2 separate regions of the Homo sapiens genome follow, and region 2 is linked to region 1. The links come from fine-mapping of genetic effects on plasma protein levels. A gene starts in region 1. The other region holds a variant in brackets. All regions are shown on one strand. Distances are from middle to middle.

Region 1 (9,829 bases):
AAGGATTTGCAGCTCAGTGACTGCCCTCTCACCCCTGAAAGGAAACTTCTGCTCTCCTGAAACTCCCCTGACACCCTCAAACACCTGGAAGGAGAGACCAGGTGGGTGAGCTAGAAATACCAATCCCACAGAGAGTTCTCTTCACTCACCAGGCTGCCTCACTCACCTGGCCTGTGCACAGCCCCACCACCAGGTCAGCAATGAATGTGTCCTCAGTCTCTCCTGAGCGATGACTCACCATGACCCCCCAGCCATTCTCCTGGGCCAGCTTGCACCTGTATCCACACACAGCACTGATTCTCCAGCTCTCACACTGGGCACTCTCTTCCCAGCCCCAACCTTGGTCTATGTCAGGAAACATCTAGGGGAAAGCTATCTGGGAGGGGAGCAGAGAATCAGGGGTGGAGGGGCAGAGGTGAGAGAACTGTGAGGATGATTCCAGGTTCCCCGCTCTCTTTGGCACCCCTGGGTAGAATTAGGCTGGAGCACTTGCAAAAGGAGTCTTATAGAAACGAGGACCACACAGGAGAGGGCCAGAAGTCACTCACGCTTGGATGGCTTCAGTGACCGAGCCGATCTGGTTGACCTTGAGCAGCAGACAGTTGCAGGCCTTTTCTTCCACTGCCCGCTCAATACGTTTTGGGTTGGTCACTGTCAGGTCATCACCCACAATCTGGATCCCTACATTGGCTGTGAACTTGGACCAGGCAGCCCAATCATCCTGGTCAAATGGGTCCTCAATGGAGACCACTGCAGAGAGAGCATGGTGGGGAGGGGGGAGGTGTTCATCTTCCCTGGGTCTCTACATCAGGCAGGAACATGCCCCTTTATTCCCTGAAATGGACAGGCCCTTGGTTAACTACACCTGCTCATCCTTGCTAAGACAAATCCCCCCAGTGTAAGCCTGCCCTAACTGATTCTTAACTTTTTTTTTTTTTTTGACAGAGCCTCATTCTGTCATCCAGGCTGGAGTGCAGTGGCACAATCTCAGCTCACTGCAACCTCCACCTCCCCAATCAAGTGATCCTGCCACCTCAGCCTCCTGAGTAGCAGGGACTTTAGGTGTGTGGCACCACACTCAGCTAATTTTTAAAATTTTTGTAGAGATGAGGTCTCACTGTATTGCCAGGCCAGTCTCGAACTCCTGGATTCAAGCAGTCCTCCTGCCTCGGCTTCCCAAAGTAATGGGATTACAGGCATGAGCCACCACGCCTGGCTCCTGATTCTTATTTCATAAAACCTTACATGGAGAGGCCAGGCACAGTGGCTCATGCCTGTAATCCCAGCACTTTGGGATACTGAGGTGAACGGATCACTTGAGGATAGGAGTTCCCTGGCTAACATAGTAAAACCCCATCTCTACTAAAAATACAAAAATTAGCCAGGCATGGTGGTGCACGCCTGTAATCCCAGCTACTTGGGAGGCTAAGAGAATCGTGCAGTGAGCAGAGATCTCACGCCACTTCCATAGGCTGGGCACAGTGGCTCATGCCTGTAATCCCAGCACTTTGGGAGGCCGAGGCATGCAGATCACTTGAGCCCAGTAGTTTGAGACCAGCCATGAGCAACATGGCTAAACCCTGTCTCTACAAAAAAAAAAAAAAAAAAAAAAAGTTAATTAAAAGCAAACCAGCCAGGCGTGGTGGCTCACGCCTGTAATCCCAGCACTTTGGGAGACCAAGGTGGATAGATTACCTGAGGTCAGGAGTTGGAGACCAGCCTGACCAACATGGAGAAACCCCTGTCTCTACTAAAAATACAAAATTAGCCAGGCATGGTGGCACATGCCTGTAATCCCAGCTATTCGGGAGGCTGAGGCAGAAGAATCGCTTGAATCCGGGAGGTGGAGGTTGTGGTGAGCCGAGATGGCGCCATTGCACTCCAGCCTGGGCAAGAAGAGTCAAACTCTGTCTCAAAAAAAAAAAACAAAACAAAAAAAACAACCCCACCCCCCCCCCAAAAAAAATCTTCCAGTAACAAGGGTTCACAACCTAGCTTTGCATTTTCCTGTTCTCACTGCCAGCAAGCCCTTCCTCATTGCTAATCCAAATCCTTAATTCTGCAATTATGTTGATTTTCTTTCGCTCTGTGTCAGGAAGATGGCGACCAACTGCCTCCATCCTGAGATAAAGGCCCTGGGCAGACTTGCAGAAGCTAATTCAGTCCCCCTCAGCCTTCTTTCTACTCACACATCAGTCCCAGCTCCATTCAGCATCCACAATTTCATCAATCAAAGATACTGAAATGTTCTAGTTCTCTGCTAGATCCAGTCACACTCATATCATCCCTGGTTCCTTCCAGAGCCTTCCCCATGACCCCAGTAGTTTTCAGAACCCATGACTTTAATCAGGATCTGAGACAGAACAGATTGGTCACGGGTACCTGCATTTTTACACTACATACAAAGCCCAGTCTTTGCAGGTGGCTCCTGCACCCTCTCCCTGGTTCTCAGGTTCTTCTTAGGACACCCCCACCTGGTGCCTGAGTCAGCACCCCATAAGGTCCAGAGTTGCTGGGACACGTCCCTGCCTGCCCCCAGACCTCCCCCTCACACCACTTCCTCTCACCAGGATAGTCCCTGACAAAGTCCTGGTAGAGTGCCCCCAGCTGGTCCCCAGTGATGTATCGGGAAGGATCAGTGGGAGACTTGAAGTCCAAGTCATATTTGCCATCACGATAAAACTCTGAGGCAGCAACATCCATGCCAATAACGATCTTTTCCGTGTAGCCAGCCTTGTCGATGGCTTCCTTCACCAGCTCCAAGGCTGGGGACAGAATACAGTGAGATTATAGTACAAGCAGGAGGGATGGGCAAGGAGGAGGAGGGAAAGAAAAGACATTCAGGGCAGAGGTGGAGGGCTGTTCCTGAGGGAAGTGTGGCGGGGATGCTGTTGGGGTTATCCCCAGGTCTGGGAGGAGAGGCCATCTTCTAGGAACACAGAGGAATGGAATTCTCTTAATAATACTTACTATACTTTCATTGGTATCATGTCATCTAAGCATTTTATATATATTTCATTTAAGCCTCACACTACCATGAGCTAGATTCTGTTATTATTTCCAGAGAGAAGTAAGAAAGTTCACCAGCAGTAACTCCACAAGTCAAGGTTCAAATAAATCCAGGTTATTTGGCCCCAGAACCTTAACTCTTAACCACTACCTATATTCTTTCCATTCCCTATACAGTTTCCCCCAAGGCACAGAAAAATTAGGGATTCTAGAGGCCTAGGAGGTTGGGACGGGGACAGGACAGATTTCGAATGGATGGGATGAATCCAACAGTCATCCAGACCATCTCCCAGTATTCCCAAGGGCTCCAGTGACAACTTTTTTTTTTTTTTTTTTTTTTGAGACGGAGTCTCGCTCTGTTGCCCAGGCTGGAGTGCAGTGGCATGATCTCGGCTCACCACAACCTCCGCCTCCCGGGTACAAGCGATCCTCCTGCCTCAGCCCCGCTAGTATCTGTGATTACAGGCACACGCCACCATGCCCGGCTAATTTTTGTATTTTTAGTAGAGACGGGGTTTCACCTTGTTGGCCAGGCTGGTCTCAAACTCCTGACCTCAGGTGATCCACCCGCCTCAGCCTCCCAAAGTGCTGGGATTACAGGTGTGAGCCACCGCGCCCGGCCTTCCAGTGGCAACTTAACAGATGCTAACACATCTGGCTAGGCAGGTAAAAGACTGTCCCCTGGCCAGGCGTGGTGGCTCACGCTTGTAATCCCAGCACTTTGGGAGGCCGAGGCGGGCCGATCACAAGGTCAGGAGTTCGAGACCACAGTGAAACCCTGTCTCTACTAAAAAATACAAAAAATTAGCCGGGCGTGGTGGCGGGCGCCTGTAGTCCCAGCTACTCGGGAGGCTGAGGCAGGAGAATGGCGTGAACCCGGGAGGCGGAGCTTGCAGTGAGCTGAGATCGAGCCACTGCACTCCAGCCTGGGTGACAGAGCAAGACTCCGTCTCAAAAAAAAAAAAAAATACTGTCCCCCTAGGTCTGCATGTGAATTTGGCAGGCTCTCTGCAATCCACTCTAAGAACTGGTACCTTTTGGAGTTTGCAGAGTCCTAGGACCCTCCACGCCTACTCAGGACTTGGTGAACTGTGTCACCCTTTCTGATGTCCCACAATAGGGTAAGACTTAGAGCTGGGAGTGGGGCTCCTGGCCTCACCTTCACTGTTCTCCAGGATATTGGGGGCAAAGCCACCTTCATCCCCCACATTGGTGGCATCCTTGCCGTATTTGTCCTTGATGACTCCCTTGAGTGTATGGTAGACCTCTGCACCTAGTCGCATGGCATCCCGAAAGCTCTCAGCTCCCACTGGGAGGATCATGAACTCCTGCATGGCCAGCTTGTTGCCAGCATGAGAGCCACCATTGATCACGTTGAAGGCCTGGGGAGCCACAGAAAGACAGAAGGGTCAAAGAGCCCCTCCCTGCCCGCCCCAGGAGTGTTAACCCAAGATCCCAAACTTCCCCCAGCTTTCCGGACTAAGTCTCACGTCCCCATCCTTCCTCTTTACCTCCCTCAATTCACTTTCCTCCCATCATTCCTCATGAGTTGCATGCTCCCTCCCCCACCCGCCCCTGGGAGAGCCGCAGGCTGGCTTATTGCTCACCGGCACAGGCAGGATGAGGTCTGAGTTCCCGGCCAGCTGAGCAATGTGGCGATACAGGGGCAGTTCCCGCTCAGCTGCCCCTGCCTTACACACGGCCAGAGACACACCCAGGATGGCATTGGCCCCAAACTTGGCTAGGAGATTATAGAGGAAGGTGCTGAGCACAATGTCCCCTTCTCCTTTCTAGCTCCTGCCTCCATCTGTAGTCTCCAAAAGGAGCCAGTAAAGGAGACCCCCTCCTCCCTCCCCACCCCTGCCCCAGCAACACCTCATCCATGCTCTCTTGAAAACAGCAGGGAGAGGAATGGGTGGGGAGGAGGAGATTGGAAACGGCAGAGAGCCACACCTCTTTCTAAATATCCCTGAGACCACAGACTCTCTCAGGCCATCCCCCTCCTCTGTATGCTGCAAAGAAGGTCTTCCTTCTGCCTACTGTCGGTCCTTCCCTCTGCAGCTAAACTCATCTCCCCTTGCTCTGGCTTTGAGAGGAGAATGCCCCTGACAGTCATTCCTGAGGAAGCCACTACAGCACTGGCCCTTCAGCTCTCTATCTGCTCCACGCCTCCCCACCCTGACGCTTCCCCACTTTCTCCCGGCCCCGGCTCACATTTGTTCTCAGTCCCATCCAACTCCAGCATCAGGTTGTCCAGTTTCTCTTGCTCCACCACAGAGAGACCCTGAGGGCAGAGCCTCCATCACCCAGGGCCAGGCTGGAGGCTGAGCCCTAAGGCAGAGGGTCCCCTCATTCACACCCAAGCTCACATTTGGCCAGGGTCCAACCAGGTCCCTGTGACAGGGGCCTACCTGGATTAGGGGACCTGAACTCCCATGGGAGCAGGGTGCATTAAGGAAGCTGTTCCCCACCCTTCCCCCTTGTAACCATGATTCCTAAGAGTGGGCCTTCTTTCTTCCCTTCCTCCTGCCCTGCTCCGGGATTCCTTCCAGAACTCTGGCCCTGCTATCCCCAGCAAAGAGCAGGCCTCACTGAGCTGATGAGGGCTGGCGCGATGGTGGAGTTGATGTGGTCCACTGCCTTCAGGACACCTGGGGAAAGGAAGAGGCTGGACTGGGTCGGGCCAGGAGGGGCCGGAAGGGATCAATGGGAGGAGGGGAAGCCATGCTAGAGGAGGACTGGGGACTGGTGTGAGGTAGGGGCATAAGGCTGAGGTGGGGGAGAGTCTGGAAAAGAGAAGGGACCTCACCTTTGCCTAAGTAACGCTGTTTGTCTCCATCCCTCAGCTCCAGGGCCTCATAGATGCCCGTAGAGGCTCCACTGGGCACTGCAGCCCGGAAAAGACCTAAAGGAGGAACATGGAATGAGAGGGAGTGAAGAGGACACAGGGGCCAGGGAGTCCTTCAGCCTTCTGGCTCTAAACTGCCTGCCTACCACATCTAGCTCTCTCCCCACACTGCTCCCTAACATCCCCCCACCCCCACCCCACACACACACTGAGGCAGATGCACAAGAAGTGGCCTCCTCATCCACCCATCTGAGGCCCCACATGCACAAGTGGGAGCCCGCAGAAAGAAAATTGCTTGCAGCACACGTCTGCACACATGCAAGTGCACAGGCAGACACACGGAGGCAGGACATGCCTCACACGCTAAACTCGAACACAGACCCACCTACCCTGGCTCCCCGGACAAGGAGGATCCAACCGCCACAACCCAGGCTTGTGAGCCTGGCCCAGCACCCCATACCCCTGGGTATCAAAAAAGGCCTCCGAACCCCTGGCCGAACCCAGCCTGGCCGTGGAAAAGCTAGGGCTGTAGGAAGGCCCATGCCACACCCATTACCTTTGGCAGTATAGAGATCCACCTCCACTGTGGGGTTCCCGCGGGAGTCCAGGATCTCCCGGGCCCAGATCTTCTCTATGGACATGATGGCTGGGATCTCCTCGGGTGGAAGGGAAGGAAGGAGAAAGATAAGAGGCTTAGAGGGGTGGAGCCTGAGATCAATGGGCGGGGCGGGAGGCTGGGAGGGATGGGAAAGAGGTTACTGCAGTGGGTGGGGGGTGGGTAGGGAGGCGCTGGCTGCAGTCTAGGGCTGTAGAAGGGATTCCCCCTCCCCCCTGGGAAGAGGAGAAGGTCAATGCAGTGAGGAAGGGGAGGTCACTGCAGTGGGGGGCGGGGTAAGATCAAATGATGAGATGGGAGAACACTGCAGTGAGGAGGGGAGGGGCACGACAGTGGTTCCCGCGCCTCTTTGCAGCTTGGCCAGCCGGTGGGGTTCCCCCAGATCTCCTCAGAGCGGAATGGCTGCCAGGCTTGCATTTCTCCTGGGAGCCAAGAAGAGGATGGGCTGCCTGGGCCTCTCTTCCAGAGCCCCCATACCTCCCCAACTTAACACCCCAGCTGCCTGAACACTGCCCCTTCCCCAAGGTCCCACTCTCTCCCAAACGTGTATCCCTCCTCTTCCCGCGAAAGGCGCATGCAATACAGGTGTCGGGGAAGAGGGTCCTGAGAAAGGCCCTGCAGTCCCTGGGGGTTGCAGCGGGAAGTGAAGAGGATAAGAGCCGGTGGGGAGTGGAGGCGAGCTGGGCCTGTCCTCCCCTCTGCGCCTCGACAGATCCCCACTTCTTCCATCTCTCCCCCGTGCAGCAGAGGGGAGGAAGCGCGAACGGAGAGGGGCGCCGTGGGGAAGAGCAGGAGAGAGGGGAGTCCAAGGGAAGTCTGGGGGAGGTGAGGAACGGTGAGAGAAGACATTTCCCCAAATGCAAACCAAAAGGGACGCTCTAGGATAAAAATGCACCGCCCGGAGAGGCTCCCAACTTAGAAACAAATAGAACCGTAGATGAGGGCGAGCACCGGGAGAGAGGCAGGCAAGGGTGGAGAGGCGCAGTTAGAGATAGGCGCGCAGAGGGCCAGAAAGCGAAGGCAGCGGGCGGGGAAGGCCAGGGAGGGAAGGCGCCCTGGGCGCGGGCGGCGGAGCAGGTGCGCAGCTGCACCGGGCCAGAGATGCGGAGAGGTGCGCAGCGGCACCGGGTAAAGGAGGCAGGGGCGCCGCGGCGAAGGGAGGGGGCCACAGGGGCTCTGGGCCTGGCGGGGGCTTCACCTCGGGACTGCAGACTCAGACGGTGGTAGTGGCGGTGGCGGTGGCGGTGGCGACGGCGGCGCTGAGAGAGCGGGAGTGGCAGTGGCGGCGGCGGCTGCGGCTCCCGGGCGGCGGGCGGAGGAGGCGCCTATAGGGCCGCGCGGGCGCATGTGACCCGGAGCCCCCGATGAGTCAGGAGCTGCCGGCGGAGGCGCACGTACGAGCGCGGGTGGGGGACCGACGAGGGTGGAGTGGGGAAGGGAGGAGGATGGGGGAAGGGTGGGGGCACCCACGACCTGGCCCCAGCGCACACAAGCGCTCATACCCACGGCCCGACCCACTCGACAGTAACAGGCAGAGCCGCACCCCTGTAGCCCGGGTACGAAGGCCCACACTGCCAGTGAAGCCCAAGACAGCCTCAATGTCTCACAAACCCGGTCAGACACAGGAGCATCACTCTGTTTCTTTATTGGAAATCCGAACACCCCAGCCGCCTTCGCAAGTCTCTCCAACCACTCCTACCAGCACCCCGCGGCCCACGCGGTCTTGGCTCTCACCCACGCCTGCCCGAGGGCGGCCCCCGGCCTAGGCTCCAGGCAACGCTCAGGCCTAGGCACCCCATTCTGCACCCCACACTGCCCAGAGGACCGGCACAGAGCAGATCCTGGGCCTCAGGTTGTGATGAATTTCCAGCTTTGGGGCAAAAACAGGCATCCTCTGTTCTCTGTCATACATGTGGTGGCTGCCCCTGGGAGTCTGATCAGGTCTGAAGGCCAGCGTCTTTGATCTCCTGGAGGTAGAAGACAGAAGTAAATAGGGACCAGGCGCTGTGGCTCACCCCTGTAATCCCAGCACTTTGGAAGGCGGAGGCGGGCAGATCACGAGGTCAGGAGATCCAGACCATCCTGGCTAACGTGGTGAAACCCCGTTTCTACTAAAAATACAAAAATTAGCCAGGCGCGGTTGCATGCGCCTGTAGTCCCAGCTACTCGGGAGGCTGAGGCAGGAGAATTGCTTGAACCCAGGAGGTGGAAGTTGCAGTGAGCTGAGATTGTGCCACTGCACTCCAGCCTGGAGACTAAGCAAGACTACCTCGCAAAAAAAAAAAAAAAAAAAAAAAAAAAACAAACAGAGGTAAATAAAGCCTCTCCCCTATCTAAAGTGCCTGGCGGCCACCCTCATCTCTTCAGTCTCTTTTTGCCTCACTCTGCCCTCTTTTCTTCCCCCATCTCTGTGTCCTGTTTTTAGCTTCAGATTTTTTGTGCTGGATCTTCCTCTCCTGCTTCTCTCCTAGGTCCAGCTGCATACACCACCAACTTTCCCCTGCAGCCCCTACCATGCACCCACACCTGTCCTTTCCTAGCCGACTTCACTCTGTGTCAGGTATGGCTGCCCCACCCCCCACCAACTCCTCTGCCTGCCACCCCAATTCTTTTCACTTACTCTTCTGGCCTCCTAAGTCTTTCTCAGCTGGTCCCAGGCCCCTTGGGTCCCTTTTCCTCTCCCTGACTCCTAACCCTCCTCTCTTTAAGGGTCCTGCTTGTCTGATGCTTTCCTCTCCCACCTCCTTCTGCAGCAGCTTCCCCTCTTGCCTCTTCCCCTACCTGCCCAGCCCTTGGCCTCCTCCCACTGCCTCCCTGCAGGCTTCCTTACTATCTTTAGAGGCTAGAACTGCTGCTAGATCAATGACTGTTCGGGTTCCAGGTCACGCTGGGGCTCAGGCTCCTGCTCCTTTTCTTCCTTCAGCCTCTGTCGAATCACATCAGCCTCAGCCCGTTCCTCCTCCTCATAGAATTCCTTGTCCAGGCGTTCAAGGTATGGCATCTGCACCAGGGCCTCCTGGCGGTAGCTGGTTTCGTCCGTGCATGGGTTATCAAGCAGCACCAACGCTCGCAGCTTGGGCAGGTCTCGAAGCTTGGCCAGCTCCCCCAGGTTGGCCACCATGTTGCCCCTGCCAGTGTGGTCAGGAGGGGTTCATGCAGGAATAATGGGCTTTGGTTGCCAGTTGCTAGGAATGGGGCCTCTGGGGGACTCTCGGGGTTCCAGTGTCCCTAGAAACACTGTGAGGACTGGCCTGCCAAGCCTTGCCAGATTTACTGCAGAGGTGCTGTGTGACCCCGCTCTGGTCCTGCTTCTGCCCTTCAAGGAATCCCTAAGTGCCATATTCTACTCTGTAATA
Region 2 (8,228 bases), 40 kb after region 1:
GCAGTGGGCATGGTCAGGGCTCACTGCAGCCTCAAGCAGTCCTCCGACCTCAGCCCACCAGAGTAACTGGGACTAGAGGCGTGCACCACCACACCCAGCTAACTTTTTTGAATTTTTAGTAGAGACGAGGTCTCCCTATGTTGCCCAGGCTCATCTCAGAACTCTTGAGCTCAAGTGATCCCCTGCCTTAGCCTCCCAAAGTACTGGGATTATAGGTGTGAGCCACCGTGCCCAGCCAGCTGGATTCTTTATCTTGATCTTTTTGGTGGTTGTCACCCAAGTGTATATGTATGTAAAAGTTCACTGGGCAATTTAAGATTAGTGTGCTTTATATATGCTACATCTCAATCAAAAAGTAAAAACGGCAGTGGTGGGAGGGGACTTTTTTTTTAAAAGGACCGATCGCAGTGGCTCACCCCTGTAATCACAATATTTTGAGAGACCAAGATGGGTGGATTGCTTGAGCCCAGGAGTTCGAGACCAACCTGGGCAACATGGTGAAACCCTGTCTTTATAAAAGCATACAAAAAAATTATCCAGGCATGCTGGCGGGGCGCCTGTTGTCCCAGCTACTCCAGAGGCTGAGGCGGGAAAGTTGCTTGAACCCAGAAGGCAGAGGTTGCAGTGAGCCGAGATCGTGCACTGCACTCCAGCCTGGGCAACAGAGCCAGACCTTGTCTCAAAATATATATATATAAAAATTTAAAAACAGCCAGGCATGGTGGCTCATGCCTGTAATCCCAGCACTTTGGGAGGACGAGGCAGGAGAATTGCTTGAGTACAGGAGTTTGAGATCAACCTGGGCAACATAGAGAGAGTCCCTGTCTCTACGAAAAGTTAAATATTAGCCAGGCCTGGTGGCATGTGCCTGTAGTCCTAGCTACTCAGGAGGCTGGGGTGAGGCTGCAGTGAGTCATGGTCGTGCCACTGCACTCCAGCCTGGAGTACACTGAGACCCTGTCTCAACAAAATAATAAAATAAGTAAAAAGGCATTGTGGCACATGCCTGTAGTCTCAGCTACTTGGGAGGCTGAGGTTGGGGGGATTACTTGAACCCAGGAATTTGAGTCCAGCCTGGGCAAAATAGCAAGACCTCATCTATAATTTTTTTTTTTTTTTTGAGATGGAATGTCGCTCTGTCACCCAGGCTGGAGTGCAGTGGCGTGATCTTGGCTCACTGCAAGCTCTGCCTCCAGGGTTCACGCCATTCTCTTGCCTCAGCCTCCCGAGTAGCTGGGACTACAGGCGCCCACCACCACGCCTGGCTAATTTTTTTTGTATTTTTAGTAGAGACGGGGTTTCACTGTCTCTACTAAAGCCAGGATGGTCTCGATCTCTTGACCTTGTGATCCACCCGCCTCGGCCTCCCAAAGTGCTGGGATTACAGGTGTGAGCCACCATGCCCGGCCAATTTTTTTTTTTTTTTAATTTTTAAGTAAAAAATTTAAATTACTTGTAGCATTACGAAATTTTTTACCTTTTAGCAACAAATGTTTGACCAGCTCCAGATTCAGTGGCATCAACTGATGAATTGTTTAAAACAACCTTTTTTTTTTTTTTTTGAGACAAAGTCTCCCTCTGTCGCCCAGACTGGAGTGCAGTGGCGCAATCTCGGCTCACTGCAACCTCCGCCTCCTGGGTTCAAGTGGTTCTTCTGCCTCGGCTTCCTGAGTAGCTGGGACTACAGGCACGTGCCAGTAGGCCTGGCTAATTTTTATGTATTTTTTAGTAGAGACGGGGTTTCACCATGTAGGCCAGGCTGGTCTCGAACTCCTTATCTCAGATGATCTGCCTGCCTCAGCCTCCCAAAGTGGTGGGATTACAGGCGTGAGCCACTGTGCCCGGCCAACAACCATGTTTTAAACAACCAGTAGCAGCAGCAGCAGCAGCATCAGCAGCACAGGCGTGATTAAATTCTCAAGCTGAGCTAGAGCTAGCCATGGGGCAGGCACTGTTCTCTGTCCCCAGGCCTTGGTTATCACATGGGTCCTTCACTACTATTCATCATAGGCTGCCACCCACAGTCATGATGTTATTTATTTTTTGAGACGGGGTCTCGCTCTGTCACCCAGGCTGGAGTGCAGTGGCCTGATCTTGGCTCACCGCAACCTCCAATTCTAGACTCAAGGGATTCTCTTGCCTCAGCCTCTTGAGTAGCTGGGATGGCAGGCGCAAGCCACCAAAGCCTGGCTAATTTTTTGTATTTTTTGTAGAGGCGGGGTTTCATCATGCTGCCCAGGCTGGTCTTCAACTTCTGATCTCAAATCGGCCCACCTTGGCCTCCCAAAGTGCTGGGATTACAGGTGTGAGCCACTGTGCCTGGTCTTACAGTCATGATGTTATTATTGATGTCACATACTGGCAAGCATATCCAGGTTGGGTGGATGACAAGTTTCAGGTTCATATCTTTATTTTAGTATGCTTTCTTCTTCTTTTTATTATTATTTTATTTTCATAGGTTATTGGGGAACAGGTGGTGTTTGGTTATATGAGTAAGTTCTTTCGTGGTGATTTGTGAGATTTTGGTGCACCCATCACCCAAGCAGTATACACTGAACGCTATTTATAGTCTTTTATCCCTCCACCTCTTCCCACCCTTTCCCCCTGAGTACCCAAGGTCCATTGTGTCATTCTTATGCCTCTGCATTCTCATGGCTTAGCTCCCACTTATGAGAACATATGATGTTTGGTTTTCCATTCCTGAGTTACTTCTTAGTGTGCTGCTTTCTTCTTCCTCTTTAAAACATTATAAAATATTTTGTACATCATTTTATATATATATATATATATATATATATATATATATATATATATATATATATATATACAGCCACATAGTGATTTTTACACAAACGAATATATGCTCACCTAACAGATGCAGTAACTGAGGGATTTTCTTTTTCTTTTTTTTTTTTTTTTTGAGATGGAGTTTCGCTCTTGTTGTCCAGGCTGGAGTGCAATGGCTCAATCTCAGCTCACCACAACCTCTGCCTCCCAGGTTCAAGCGATTCTCCTGCCTCAGCCTCCCGAGTAGCTGGGATTACAGGCATGTGCCACCATGCCTAGCTGATTTTTGTATTTTTAGTAGAGACGAGGTTTCTCCATGTTGGTCAGGCTGGCCTCAAACTCCCGACCTCAGGTGATCTGCCTGCCTCGGCCTTTCTTTTTTCTTTTTTCTTTTTTTCCTAGTTCTTGTGGTCCTCAATTATTTTTATTTTATTTTACTTTATTTTTTGAGACGGAGTCTTGCTCTGTCGCCAGGCTGGAGTGCAGTGGCAGGATCTTGGCTCACTGCAACCTCTGCCTTGCGGGTTCTTCTGCCTCAGCCTCCTGAGTAGCTGGGATTACAGGCACGATTCTCCTTCCTCAGCCTCCTGCGTAGCTGGGATTATAGGCACATGCCACCACGCCCAGCTAATTTTTGTATTTTTAGTAGAGACGGGGTTTCACCATGTTGGCCAGGCTGGTCTCGAACTCCTGACCTCAAGTGATCCACCTGCCTCGGCCTCCCAAAGTGCTGAGATTACAGGCATGAGCCACCATGCCCAGCCTATTTTATTTTTTTGTTTTGTTTTCTGAGATGGAGTATCACTCTGTCGCCCATGTTGGAGTGCAGTGGCGCCATCCTGACTCACTGCAACCTCCGCCTCCTGGGTTCAAACAATTCTCCTGCTGAGGGATTACAGGTGCACACCACCACGCCTGGCTAATTTTTTTTTTTTTGTATATTTAGTAGAGACGGGATTTCACCATGTTGGCCAGGCTGGTCTTGAACTCCTGACCTCAGGTGATCCACACGCCTCGGCCTCCCAAAGTGCTGGGATTACAGGCGTCAGCCACCGCGTCCGGCCTATTTTATTATTATTATTTGGTAGAGATGGGGTCTCACTAGTCTTCCAGGCTGGTCTCAAACTCCTGGGCTCAAGCTCCTGCTTCAGCCTCTCAAAGTGGTGGGATTACAGGAATGAGCCACTGCACCCAGCCTACTAAGGGATTTCCAAGGGTAACTTTAACTATGTGACATAATTGTAATTTACTTCTCCTCATTTTCTATTCCTTCAAAATGTAAAGCTTGTGACAGTCCAGCCCCTTCAGCCTGGAGTTCCACCTACCAGTCCCCACATGTGCTGTCTCTCACCAAGGTTGCCAGTGACCTCTGACCAAAACAATCTTGTAAGTAATCAAAACTGAATTTTCTACCTTGTTCTATTCTCCTTGACCCTTCTGTTGCTCCACACTCTCTTTGTCCCCATCGCCCATATTTCACTCACTCATTCTCATAGTTCAACTCCTGACTAAAGACTGACACACCTCCCAAATCCCTGTCTCCAGCCCAGGCCTCTCATTCTGCCTCCAGACCTGCCATTTTCTTGTGTGTTCTGGATGGTTCCATTTGCTTGTGGCTCAGACACCTCAAAAACATATCCTAAACTGAACTCACCATCTCCCTCTCCCACCCTCCTGCCCCTGCCCTCAATTACTCCTCTTTCTGTCATCTCCATCTTGATTGGTGGCACCACCTTCCAATCAATTTTTCCAGGCTAGAAACTTCCCTTTCTCTTTTTTTTTTTTTTTTTTTTTTGAGATGGAGTCTTGCTCTGTCGCCCAGGCTGGAGTGCGGTAGCGCCATCTCGGCTCACTGCAGCCTCCACCTCCCTGGTTCAAGCAATTCTCCTGCTTCACCCTCCGAAGTAGCTGGGATTACAGGTGCCCACCACCACACACAGCTAATTTTTGTATTTTTAGTAGAGACAGGGTTTCACCATGTTGGCCAGGCTGGTCTCAAACTCCCAACCTCAGGTGATCCGCCTGCCTCGGCCTCCCAAAGTGCTGGGATTACAGGCGTGAGCCACTGTGCCCAGCCTCAACTCCATATCTAATCAGTCACCAAATCTTGCCGTTTCATCAGTGTTTCTTGAATTATTTTCATCCTTATTTCTACTGTCCTATTTCAGGCTGTTGACACTTGTCACCTGGGCTGCTGGAAATGGTGTCTTTGCTTCCAGTCCTTTTTTTTTTTTTTTTTTGAGACAGAGTTTCACTCTTGTTGCCCAGGCTGGAGTGCAATGGCGTGATCTCGGCTCACCGCAACCTCCACCTCCCAGGTTCAAGCAATTCTCCTGCCTCAACCTCCTGAGTAGCTGGGATTACAGGCATGCTCCACCATGCCCGGCTAATTTTGTATTTTTAGTAGAGACAGGGTTTCTCCATGTTGGCCAGGCTGGTCTCGAACTCCAAACCTCAGGTGATTCGCCCATCTCAGCCTTCCAAAGTGCTGGGATTACAGGTGTGAGCCATCGCGCCCAGCCAACTTCCAGTTCTATTTCCCTTGAAGCTCCTCTATGTTGCTGCCAGGGTGGTTTTTCTAAAATGCAGATCTGGCCAGGCACAGTGGCTCACGCCTGTAATCCCAGTACTTTGGGATGCTGAGGCAGGAGGATCGCTTGACTCAGGAGTTCGAGACCAGCCTGGGCAACAGACTGAGACTCTGTCTCTATTTTAAAAATTAAGAAATAATAATTTGTAAATTAAAAAAATAAAAATAAATTAGCTCGGCATGGCGGTATGCACCTGTAGTCCCAGCTACTCAGGAGGCTGAGGTAGGAGGATCAGCGGAGCTCAGGAGGTTGTGGCTGCCATGAGTCGTGATCACGCTACTCCACTCCAGCCTGGGTGACAAAGTGAGACCCTGGCTCAAAATATATAAATAAATCAAATGCCTATCTGACCATGTTCCTCTCTTCTTCTATCCTACAGTGGCTCCCCATCACTGGCCTGTCCTATGGGAAAACATTTGCATTCCTTAACTCAGCCTAGAAGGCCTCTGTGACTTGCTGTCTACTTATCTGGCCCTTCTCATGCTTCCTTTCTGGCTGTAGCAACCTTGAAGATATCGTACTTCCCCAAACCCACCTGCTGCTTCTTGCTTTT[T/A]TTCATGCGGACTCTTCTGTCTGGAATATCTTCTACATGCAGCAACCGTAACCCAACCTCCATACTGCAGAGAAGTGGCTCGTCTCAGGCCAATTCCTGGTCATCCTTTTAGATTCAGCCCAGGCTGGGCGCGGTGGCTCATGCCGGTAACCCCAGCACTTTGGGAGGCCGAGGCGGGCAGATCACGAGGTCAGGAGTTCGAGGCCAGCCTGGGCAACATAGTGAAACCCTGTCTCTACTAAAAATACAAAAATTAGCCAGGCATGGTGGTGCACGCTTGTAGTCCCAGCTACTTGGGAGGCTGAGGCAGGAGAATCACTTGACCCCAGGAGGCAGAGGTGAGCTGAGATCACGCCACTGCACTCCAGCCTAGGCATCAGAGCTTAGACTCCGTCTCAAAAAAAAAAAGAGAAAGATTCAGCCCAGTGTGAAGGTGTGAACCTCTTCTAGGACATGAAAAGATTCAGCCCAGGTGTGAACCTCTTTTGGAGATGCTCCTTTCCTAACTGCTTGAACCCCGGATAGGAGTCCTATTCTTTTTACTCCTATAGTACTTTCTTTATATCTCCATAATTTTATTTACTATTACTACATGATACATTATTTTATAAAAGTCTTTGTAACCTCCTTAAGGATTCACTGCTTAATCTCCAGTGCTTAGCACAAATCATTAAATGCGAACCAGAAACTCTTCCAAATGTGTTACATCTATAACCTCATTGGATTCTCACTACCAACCCCATGCAATAGATACTAATGTGATCTCTGTCTTACAGAGGAAGAAACAGGCACAGGGAGGTTCAGTAATTTGCCCAAGGTCATACACACACTGGCCTTCAGGTATTCATGCCCGGGGAGTCTGGTCCCACAGCTGGCATGTTTGCCATTATATTATATTGCCTCCTTATAGTGTCGGCACTCATTAAGCACATTGACAGCTATGCTTGGTGAGTGACTACTATGTACCCAGCTCTGTGCTACATGCTTTACCTGGATTATTTCAACTGCACAACAACCCTGTGAGGTAACTACCATCATTGCTCCTATTTTACATAACAGAAAACTACAGAAATCTGGGGCTGGGCGTAGTGGCTCATGCCTGAAATCCCAGCACTTTGGGAGACCCTGTCTCTAAAAAAAATTTTTTTTTGGCCGGACGTGGTGGCTCACACCTGTAATCTCAGCACTTTGGGAGGCTAAGGCAGGCAGATCACAAGGTCAGGAGTTCTAGACCAGCCTGGCCAACATGGCAAAACCCTGTGTCTACTAAAAATACAAAAAATAGCTAGGCGTGGTGGCAGGTGCCTGTAATCCCAGCTACTCAGGAGGCTGAGGCAGGAGAATCCCCTGAACCTGGGAGATGGAGGTTACAGAGAGCCGAGATCGTGCCGCTGCACTCCAGCCTGGGCAACAAGAGCAAGACTCTGTCTCGAAAAAAATAAAAATAAAAATAAAAATATTTTTTTAAAAATTAGCTGGGTGTGGTAGCACATGCCTGTAGTCCCAGCTACTTGGGAGGCTGAGGTAGGAGGATCACTTGAGCCCAGGAGGTCAAGGCTGCAGTGGGCTGTGATGGCGCCACTGCACTCTAGCCTTGGTGACAGCAAGACCCTGTCTCAAAAAAAAAAAAAAGAGAAATCGGGCAACTTCCCCAAGATCGCGCAGTTAACTAGTGGCATAGCTTCACTCAAACTCGAAGTCTTAATCAGGACACTCTACCAAATGAGATCAACGGCTCAGTAATGGATTGGCATCCAGTATGAAGACTGGACCAGCAGGGAGAACTATGATGCGTACAGCCTAGAGCCTGAAGCAGATTTCACAGCCTCAGAGGTGGCACAGGCTGACTCACAACCCGGGGCAGAAAGGGACCAGCCCAGAAACAGTGACCCAGAATCACAGGGAAGTAGAAATGGGATTCGGCACAATGAAGCCCCTCCTTGACCCCATGCTCCTTACCCTCAGGGGCGCAGGAGTTAGTCGCTCAGGCGGCTCAAAGGTCTTGACGGTGGAGAACACCATCCCCAGGGATTCCCGACGCGGTGATGCCATCAAAGCGTTAATTCTGAGATGGGCCTGCCCGGGTGCGGACTCTGCCGCAGCAAGAGAAGGGTTAACTGCCCCGGGCCTTCGCCGTGGGGGCGGGGCCTCGGGGAGGGTCACAGCCCGGGACTGAGACCCGAGGTTAACCGCCCGGGGTGGGCTCCACGGGGGCGGGGCATGCTCTCCGCGGCTGCTGCCGGTATAGAGCGGTAACTGCCCAGGAGGGGGCGGGGCCCCACAGGGGCGTGGCCTCG

What was found. A credible set is the group of variants that fine-mapping cannot tell apart. PIP is the chance, under the fine-mapping model, that this variant and not a neighbour inherited with it causes the effect. Protein levels are from antibody-based Olink assays in UK Biobank. Linkage for the fine-mapping came from a reference panel and not from the study's own genotypes, which makes the PIPs less certain.
Region 2: its variant is the best candidate, but not a certain one, in a credible set for the plasma level of the ENO2 protein (UK Biobank, PIP 0.82).

The regions. Positions count from the first base shown.
Region 1 is chr12:6,912,502-6,922,330 of GRCh38, reverse strand. It overlaps ENO2 (enolase 2), which reads right to left and starts at 7,751. Exons shown (of 12, transcript NM_001975.3): 1 at 7,672-7,751; 2 at 6,414-6,510; 3 at 5,819-5,914; 4 at 5,602-5,660; 5 at 5,224-5,293; 6 at 4,617-4,750; 7 at 4,169-4,391; 8 at 2,568-2,765; 9 at 549-750; 10 at 167-275. The coding sequence starts at 6,498. It overlaps LRRC23 (leucine rich repeat containing 23), which reads right to left. Exons shown (of 8, transcript NM_001135217.2): 7 at 9,304-9,601; 8 at 8,102-8,440. The coding sequence ends at 9,328. RefSeq lists enhancers at 6,119-6,758, 6,759-7,400, 8,079-8,248, 8,279-8,348 and silencers at 7,757-7,947, 7,479-7,968.
Region 2 is chr12:6,873,444-6,881,671 of GRCh38, reverse strand. It overlaps LOC105369632 (a long non-coding RNA gene), which reads left to right. Exons shown (of 4, transcript NR_135083.1): 3 at 4,072-4,173; 4 at 5,758-5,908. Among named protein-coding and RNA genes, the nearest start is that of SPSB2, 4.3 kb to the right of the region's middle. RefSeq lists a silencer at 7,960-8,228. The variant T/A (reference allele first, on the strand shown) is at 5,932.